Linked DNA regions of Homo sapiens. The protein of the gene in region 2 purifies or fractionates together with the protein of the main gene of each other region. This does not show direct contact. Each region holds a gene or a part of one and is shown on either strand. Other genes may lie near its edges.

Region 1 (4,085 bases), on a different chromosome or scaffold from region 2:
ACTAAGATTAGGTAATAATAGTCTATCAATGTTAATTTCTTGATTTTAATAATTGCAGTGTGGTTATGTGAGAATGCTCTTATTTCTGGAAATACATATTAAACTAGGGACCAAGAAGTATTTTGCATGCTTAAACAGTTCAGAAAAATATACACTAAAGGGAGAAAGGGAGAAAGAAGAGAGACAAAGAGAAAAAATTAATTTAACAAAATGTTAACATTCAGGGAGTCTGGATGAAGGATATCAGAGAACTCTACTCGTGCAACTTTTCTGTAATCTGAAATTAGGTCAAAATAAAAACTTTTAAAATGTAGCCTGGGACCAGTAACAGTGGCATCATTTGGGAGCTTGTTAGAAATGAAGGATTTCAGGCCCCACACAAACCTACTATATCTGAATCTACATTTTAACAAAAACCACCAGGACAATCTTTGAGACCTCTAGTATTAAAGCAATGTTTGTATAAATAACTCTAAGAAAATGTCAACTATAAATCTGCATATGCTGTAGCTCAGAATTAATAATATGCTGGATATATAACTTTTTTTCTTTGTCTTTCAGCAAAAATAAGTACAAGTTCTAGTACTCAAAAGCATTTCCACACTTTAAACTTATTTAGAAGGGAAATAAACACAAGTGGCAGGAAAATCCCTTCCAAAGAATAATATGCTGTATTTCCAAATATTCCAGAATACTGAAATATTTTGAACCTAAGAAGCATCTAACTGTACAATTCACAACTGCAAAGATATGGAACCAACCTAAGTGCCCATCGACCAACAAGTGGGTAAAGAAAATGTGGTATTTATACATGATGGAATAGTTCTCACCCAAAAAAAGGAATGAAATAATGTCTTTTACAGCAACTTGGATGGAACTGGAGGCCACTATTCTAAATGAAGTAACCCAGGAATAGAAAAGCTAACACTGTATGTTCTCACTTGTAAGCAGGGGCTAAGCTATGGGCACGCAAAGGCATACAGAGTGGTATAATGGACTATGGGACTCAGAAGGGGGAGTGGGGTGGGGTAAGGGGTAAAAACTATAGATTGGGTACAATGTACACTACTCAGGTGATGGATGCACTAAAATCTCAGATTCTGACAATCTACAATTAATCCATGTAACCAAAAAAACCACTTGTACCCCAAAAGCTATTAAGATTAAAAAAAAGTTCAACAAAAATATGTAAAAAGTTAAAATAAAAAATAAAAAAAAATCTGACAGATATTAACAATTCACCTGCAACACAGACAGCCATGAGGGACAAAGTGCAAACTATTTTTCCCGGTATTTTTGAAATTCTAACATACTACTGTTTCTACAGACATCAGTACCTTAACAAAGGTTGTTTAATCCATATCCTCACACAATTTGATAATGTAAGCAATGAATATACAACTCTTGTCAATAGATTAGTTTATAGACCAAATGATACTGAAATACGAGGGGTGTGGAGAATCAATGAATCTCTTAGAAGAATAATATATTGTTCTGGAACACTACTGAAAACAACTTTTCTTAATTGTATAAAATATCATGAAACAATCTTAAATTCCAAAGACTCTCATACTATTTACCTAGCACTCATACTGTACACTTAGCAGATCTTCTCAGAAAAATCTATTTTTAGGATCCCAGTAAAAAGGAAAGCAGAATCAGTGCAGGAAAAAAGAAATCAATAGAGCACTGCTTCTTACAGAATTTACAGATGTATAAATGTGGGGGGCAAGAGAATGAGACTCTGTAATAAAACCTAACAGAAACAATAAAATAGGAGTACTCAGTAAGTGCACCTAGAGGGCAGAGACCGTGTGTGACGTGTTCATCTTTGTATGCCACAGGCAGTGCTTAATAAATGTGCACTGAATTAAAATAAATTAAGAACTGTAGAGAACACTACCATTACAGTATGTGAAGTCATACAGAACACAGCAGTATTTCTCTCGAGCAATGTAAATAACATGACACCAGCATGGAGGACCATGGAACTGATTATTCACATATCGCTAAAATTGTATATGCAACTCTTTTCAACAACAACCTAAATACCCGCTAAGTAAAAGTAGTTACAAAATATGTAAAAATGATCTGGAGCTGCTGTCTTCAAGTAATAATAACAACAACAAAGGTCAAAATGAAATAAAACTGAATGAAGTCCAGAAATGCCTCAGGACTGGCCAAGTGCGGAGGCTCACGCCTGTAATCCCAGCACTTTGGGAGGCCAAGGCAGGCAGATTGCCTGAGCTCAGAAGTTCACCACCAGCCTGGGCAACATGGTGAAACCCCGTCTCTACTAAAATACAAAAAAATTAGCCGGGCGTGGCGGCGTGTGCCTGTAGTCCCAGCTACTCGGGAGGCTGAGGCAGGAAAATTGCTTGAACCCGGGAGGCGGAGATTGCAGTGAGCCGAGATCCCACCACTACACTCCAGCCCGGGTGACAGAGCAAGACTCCCATCTCAAAAAAAAAAAAAAAAAAAAGAAATGCTTCAGGACTTTCCAATAATGTCCTTGATAAGAGTGCCTTTTGAAATCAATTTAAGAATCCTATAGTTAATCTCTTTAGAAATCCTTGAGTTTGAATAAGTGTTATTTCCTTACCAAATAAACCCAATAAAAATCAACTGCTTTTCAGAAATTAACTCCTCCTCTAATTATAAAGCAGAAGGAAAAGACCTTATTTTTTAAAAAGGGGTTGGGGGAGACCCAAAGGGTACAATAATTAGGGCTAAGTACAGAAAAGGCAATTCCAAATCTAAACTCCAGTTTCTCCACATGGTCCTAGGTAAACAAAGCTTTAGAACAAGCTTGACCAACCCACGGCCCAATATAAATTCGTAAACTTTCTTAAAACATAAAGAGATTTTTTTTGCAATTTTTTTTTCCCTTAGCTCATCAGCTATCATTAGTGTTAGTGTATTTTCTGTGTGCCCCAAGACAATTCTTCTTCCAATGTGGCCCAGGGAAGCCAAAGATTGGATGCCCCTGGTTCAGAAGGTATAAATACTACCACAAAGGTCCACAAATTTTCAGTTCTTCCCCTGAAGTCTCGTGACTGACTGGAGGACACAAAGGGATGCCCTGCCTATGATCCATTAGCAGAGTAATAAAGTTTGTGGAATTCTAAGCCTTACAGACTCTGGTTAACAAACCACATCACCCCCACACCCAATACTAGAAATAGCTACAGGCTGCATAAAGGTAGCCATGGGAAGAAAAGAAGGCCGGGCCGGTGCCAGGCATGGTGGCTCACGCCTGTAATCCCAGCACTTTGGGAGGCCAAGGTGGGAGGATCACTTGAGGTCAGGAGTTCAAGGCCACCCTGGCCAACATGGCAAAACCCCATCTCTACTAAAAATACAAAAATTAGCCAGGTGTAGTGGCATGTGCCTGTAATCCCAGCTACCTGGGAGGCTGAGGCAGGAGAATTGCTTGAACCTGGGAGGCAGTGATTGCAGTGAGCCGAGATCGTGCCACTGCACTCCAGCCGGTGGGACAGAGCAAGACTTTCCAACTCAAAAAAAAAAAAAAAAAAAAAAAAGGCAAGGCCAAGGGTCCCAAACATACACAAATGTGGTAGAATCTACAAGCTAGCTCAAGGGATTAACTTTTTCTACATATGAGACTTTTTTCATTAAACTTTCTGCCTATTTCAGGGAAAAAAAACAAAACAAAACAAAACAAAAAAAACAAGAACTAGATATTATTGCTTTTAATTTCAGAAGATTATAACTTCATTTTTTACCTAAGTCAAACACTTAGAAATTCTCTCAGAACATTTGTAATGATGACCTTAAGCACTACACTTTTTAATTTTAAAGAAGCACTGAATTTTATAAGGTATACAGAATACAAGTTTATATCCTAAACTATATGGTCTAAACATGTAAAGTGTGTTAGGTTTCATGTGTATTTTAACCATCCCACACTCACCCTAAAACAGTATTTTCCGTCTCTATTTTTTTCAGCCATTTTTATGTTTTTACATCTCTGTGTGGGCACTTCAAGTAGTATCAAAGTTAATAATTACATTATTTTAAAATGAACACACCAGCCAATTGTAAAAAAAAAATGATGAAAGATC
Region 2 (4,085 bases):
TTTTGGTCCATCTCTGTAGAGGAAGTGTCAGCTTTTCTGTGAAGCTTATACCAAAAGGAAATGTAATGGAACCAGTCAAATCCTAGAAGATTGGTAGGTGTGCCCAGGCCAGTAAAGCGCCAGAGAAACATCACAGGTCTTTTTCATGGATCCTTGTCCCTGAGTTCTAACAGAACATGGACAGAGTTTAAAATTTACCGATTTACCTGCTTTGTTAAAATGGCAACTAGCATCTCCCATCTGACATTCCCTTATGTAAAACGTGCCACCAGCTTTCTAAATAGCCATCTTTCACCTTCCCACCCAAGTCTGAAGCATCTGTCTTTGACCCAAACAGCTGGGTTTCTCTCTGGAGACAGAATTCCAGTCTGGTTCCATCTTCTTTGGTGGAGAAAGGAGCCTGGCTTCGTGCTGTACCGTGATAGGCAAGGCATACACAATTCTGTCTGTCCTGCTTTCCATGAACATCCCGTGGACTCAGGGGCAAGGCCAGATCTTCAAGCAGGGAGTCGAGGTTCAATTTTTAGTGACAGCTCATATAGCGTATCTTCATCTATGATAAGGTCTTTGTCAAGCAAGTACTGTGCGACCTGAAAAAAAAGGGGAAGTCCCAGCTTTTACCTCTTTCAGACACCAGTGCGTACATTTTCTGACGGAATCTAACACAATTCAACATTTTCTCTTAAACAACTAAAAATCTTATTTGACCAAAAAATCATAAATATGTTTCCATTGTTAAAAAAAAAAAAAAAAAGGTGAACATCTCTAGTCCTCTCTCAACCCCCAATCCCAGGTACCTCCCTCAAGAGGAACTACTGTTACTAATTGGTTTGTTTTCTCCCAGTTGTTTTTCTATGTCTTTATAGAGATTACATGTACTTACAGAAATCATTTTTCCCCCTAAAATTGGCACCATGGTGCACATTTTATTCTGCTTTCATCTCTTAATGATAGGTTGGAGAGAGCTCCCTGTGACAGTAGATAGAGCTCTAACTGCTATACAGTATTAATAGTGCAATATATTGGAGCTTATTTAATAATCTCATATTGATAGATGTTGAGTTGCTGTCAATACTTCACTGTTACACAAAGTTTCAGTGAATTCCTTGTTAGCATGCTTCCTGGAGTGCATGCGTGAATACTCTGCTAGGCTAGGGTAGATATCAGAAGTGAAAGGAAAGGAATTGACACTAGAAATGAATATGTTGGGGCATGGGGGATTTTCATGAAAATATTTCTTTAGTTTTATTGAAATATAACACACAAAAGTGAAATAGATAGTTTGATCTGTTTTGACATGTATACACCATGTAACTTACATACATTTCATGATAACAATTTCAGCATCCCCAAAAGTTCCTTCATGCACCTACTCGGTCAATCTGCTCTTGGAATCAAGCACTGCCCTGGTTTCTATCACCACATATTAGTTCTGTCTATTTTGGAACCTCATATCGATGGGATCATACAGTGTGTACTCCTTCATGTGTGGTTTCTTTCACTCAGCATAGTGTTTTGAGATTCAGCCTTGCTGTGGCCTGTACCAGTAGTCTGCTCCCTCTCATGGCTGAGTAGTAGTCCATTGTAGAGATATACCATAATTTGTTTATCCATTCATCTGTTGATGGACACTTGAGCTCTTCCCAAATAGGGGCTATTATTTAGAAATGTTATGAACATTTTATACAAGGCTTTTAATGAGCATGCTTTCATTTTCCCTTTGGATAAACACCTAAGAGAGAAATTGCTAGGTCCTAAGATAAGTGCTCATTTAACATTTTAAGAAACTTCTAAATGGCACAGTTTTGCAAAGTGATTGTTCGATTTTATTCTCACCAACAATGGTAAGAGTTCCAGTAATTCAATATACCAATTTTTAATTTTAAATGATGATGGAAAATGACCTGCAAAGCTTCCGCACCTACAGTACATGACAGTACCTGTTTTCCTATACCCTAAGCAATGTTTGATATTATCAATCTTTTAAATTTTTGTCAATCCGATAAGTGAAAACGATGTCCCACTCTAATTTACATTTTCTCTTTTTACTAGTGAAGTTGAGCATTTAAAAAATATTTATTGGTCATTTTTTTTCTTCTATGAATTAACTATTCACAGGTTTACCAGTTGAATTGTTTATGCTTTTCTTATAGATTATGGAAACACTTTTATTCTGTTTCTTTGTTGTATATGTTGCAAATGTTGTCTCATTGTCTACTGCTTATATTTTGATTTTTAAATAATGGTCCTCTGTCATATAGAAGTCCTTAATTTTCATTAACTTTATCAAGCTTGGCTTTCACAGCTTTTGCATTCTGTGCTTAAGAAGGTCTTTCAAATCCAAAGGTCATGAATATTTTATCCTTTATTTTATTCAAATAATATAAATACTTTTTAAACTTAGGTAATGAACTCATCTGGAATTTATTTTTGTGAATGGTAAGATGGAGAGCCAAAATTCCTGTTCTATTTATTGAATGGTCAGTTTCTTTCTGGCACTTTCTTTGAGTGCCTTCTTTATCTCGTATTAGATTTTCAGGTAGACTAAACACACACATGGACTTTCTTCTGCCCTACTGGATTTGCACTGCTGTGCCAGTAGAGTCCTGAATTTTTTTTTTTTTTCTGAGACGGAGTCTCGCTCTGTCGCCCAGGCTGGAGTGCAGTGGCGCAATCTTGGCTCACTGCAAGCTCCGCCTCCCGGGTTCACGCCATCCTCCTGTCTCAGCCTCCCAAGTAGCTGGGTCTATAGGCGCCAGCCACCACGCCCGGCTAATTTTTTGTATTTTTAGTAGAGACAGGGTTTCACCGTGTTCGCCAGGATGGTCTTGATCTCCTGACCTTGTGATCCGCCCGCCTCGGCCTCCCAAAGTGCTGGGATTACAGGCGTGAGCCACCGCGCCCGGCTGAGTCCTGCCTTATTTACTCTCACTTTAGGATGTGGCCATAACTGGTAGGGAACACTCTCCTTTACTATTCTTATTTACCAAAAAGTTCTTGTCTGTTTTTTGCCTATCTATGCCTCCCTAAGAGTTTCAAGATAAGTTTGTCAAGTTCCATGAAAAACCTGTTGGGATTTTGACCAGGATTTCAATGAATTTATAGATTAATTTGAGGACAATGGACCTCTTTACAATAGTAAGTGTTTTGATCCATGAATATGATACAACTTTCTCCTTACGTACTTCAGTACATAAAGGTCTTACATATTTCCTGTTCCACTTAATCCTAGTCATTACAGATTTTGTTGCTATTTTGATTGAGGTTTTTTATATTACATTTGAATTGCTTATTGCCAATGTGTTGAAAATTGGCTTTTGCATGTCAAGTTGCTATACTCCTTTAGTAATTTATCAGTTTTTCTTAGATTTTTCTCTTGGATTTTCTAAATCAAATCGTCTGTGAATTATAGTATTTAATCTTTACCTTTCCAATTTTTATACCTTTTGCTTTTTATTGCTTCATTGCCGTGGTGAATTTTTTCCTGTTCAAATCTGAATAGTAGCAGTGATGGTCACAACCTTGTCTTTTTCCTGACTTGAATTAACTAATTCAAGAAACATTTATTATCTACTATGGTCCAGGCACTGTGCAAGATGCTGGGGCTATGACAATAAACACAGTAGGTCCAGCTCTGAACTTCATGGATATCATGCATGTGCACATAATCACACAAATAAATGTAAAATGGTGACTCCAGCAGTAAGTGCTAGAAAGGAGACTTACATGGTGCAATACAACCTTAAGAGTGGAGTGGGGATTGGGAAAGTTAGGAAAGTCTTCCTAAGTGATACTTAAGCTGTGTACAAGTAAACTGTGCAATGAGGAAGAAAGGGCACTCCAGACAGAAGGAAGAACATAGGTAAAGGCCTTGTGGCAGACAGAAATAGGGCAAAACCTAGGGGCTATTAAAAGAAAGTGTGTCTCTCACTGTTGGAGAGGGAATTTACAGATAAGCAAATGTGGGGAGAGGGCTGGAATGATTCACATGGTAATAGAATAGAGTTGGGGGCATCAGTATATTTAGCTTAATACAAATACTGATGGTTACATAGAGATATATTTATAAATAGATGTGTATAAAA

Evidence for each region.
Region 1: the proteins of RASGRF2 (region 2) and RSL24D1 purify together in Homo sapiens (affinity purification with mass spectrometry; one large-scale study listed by BioGRID and IntAct). This does not show direct contact.

What each region holds. Positions count from the first base shown.
Region 1 is NC_000015.10:55,186,732-55,190,816, forward strand, and holds part of RSL24D1 (probable ribosome biogenesis protein RLP24), read right to left. Parts: intron 1-4,085. UniProt on the Homo sapiens protein: Involved in the biogenesis of the 60S ribosomal subunit. Ensures the docking of GTPBP4/NOG1 to pre-60S particles.
Region 2 is NC_000005.10:81,222,183-81,226,267, reverse strand, and holds part of RASGRF2 (ras-specific guanine nucleotide-releasing factor 2), read right to left. Parts: intron 591-4,085; coding exon 498-590; 3' UTR 1-497.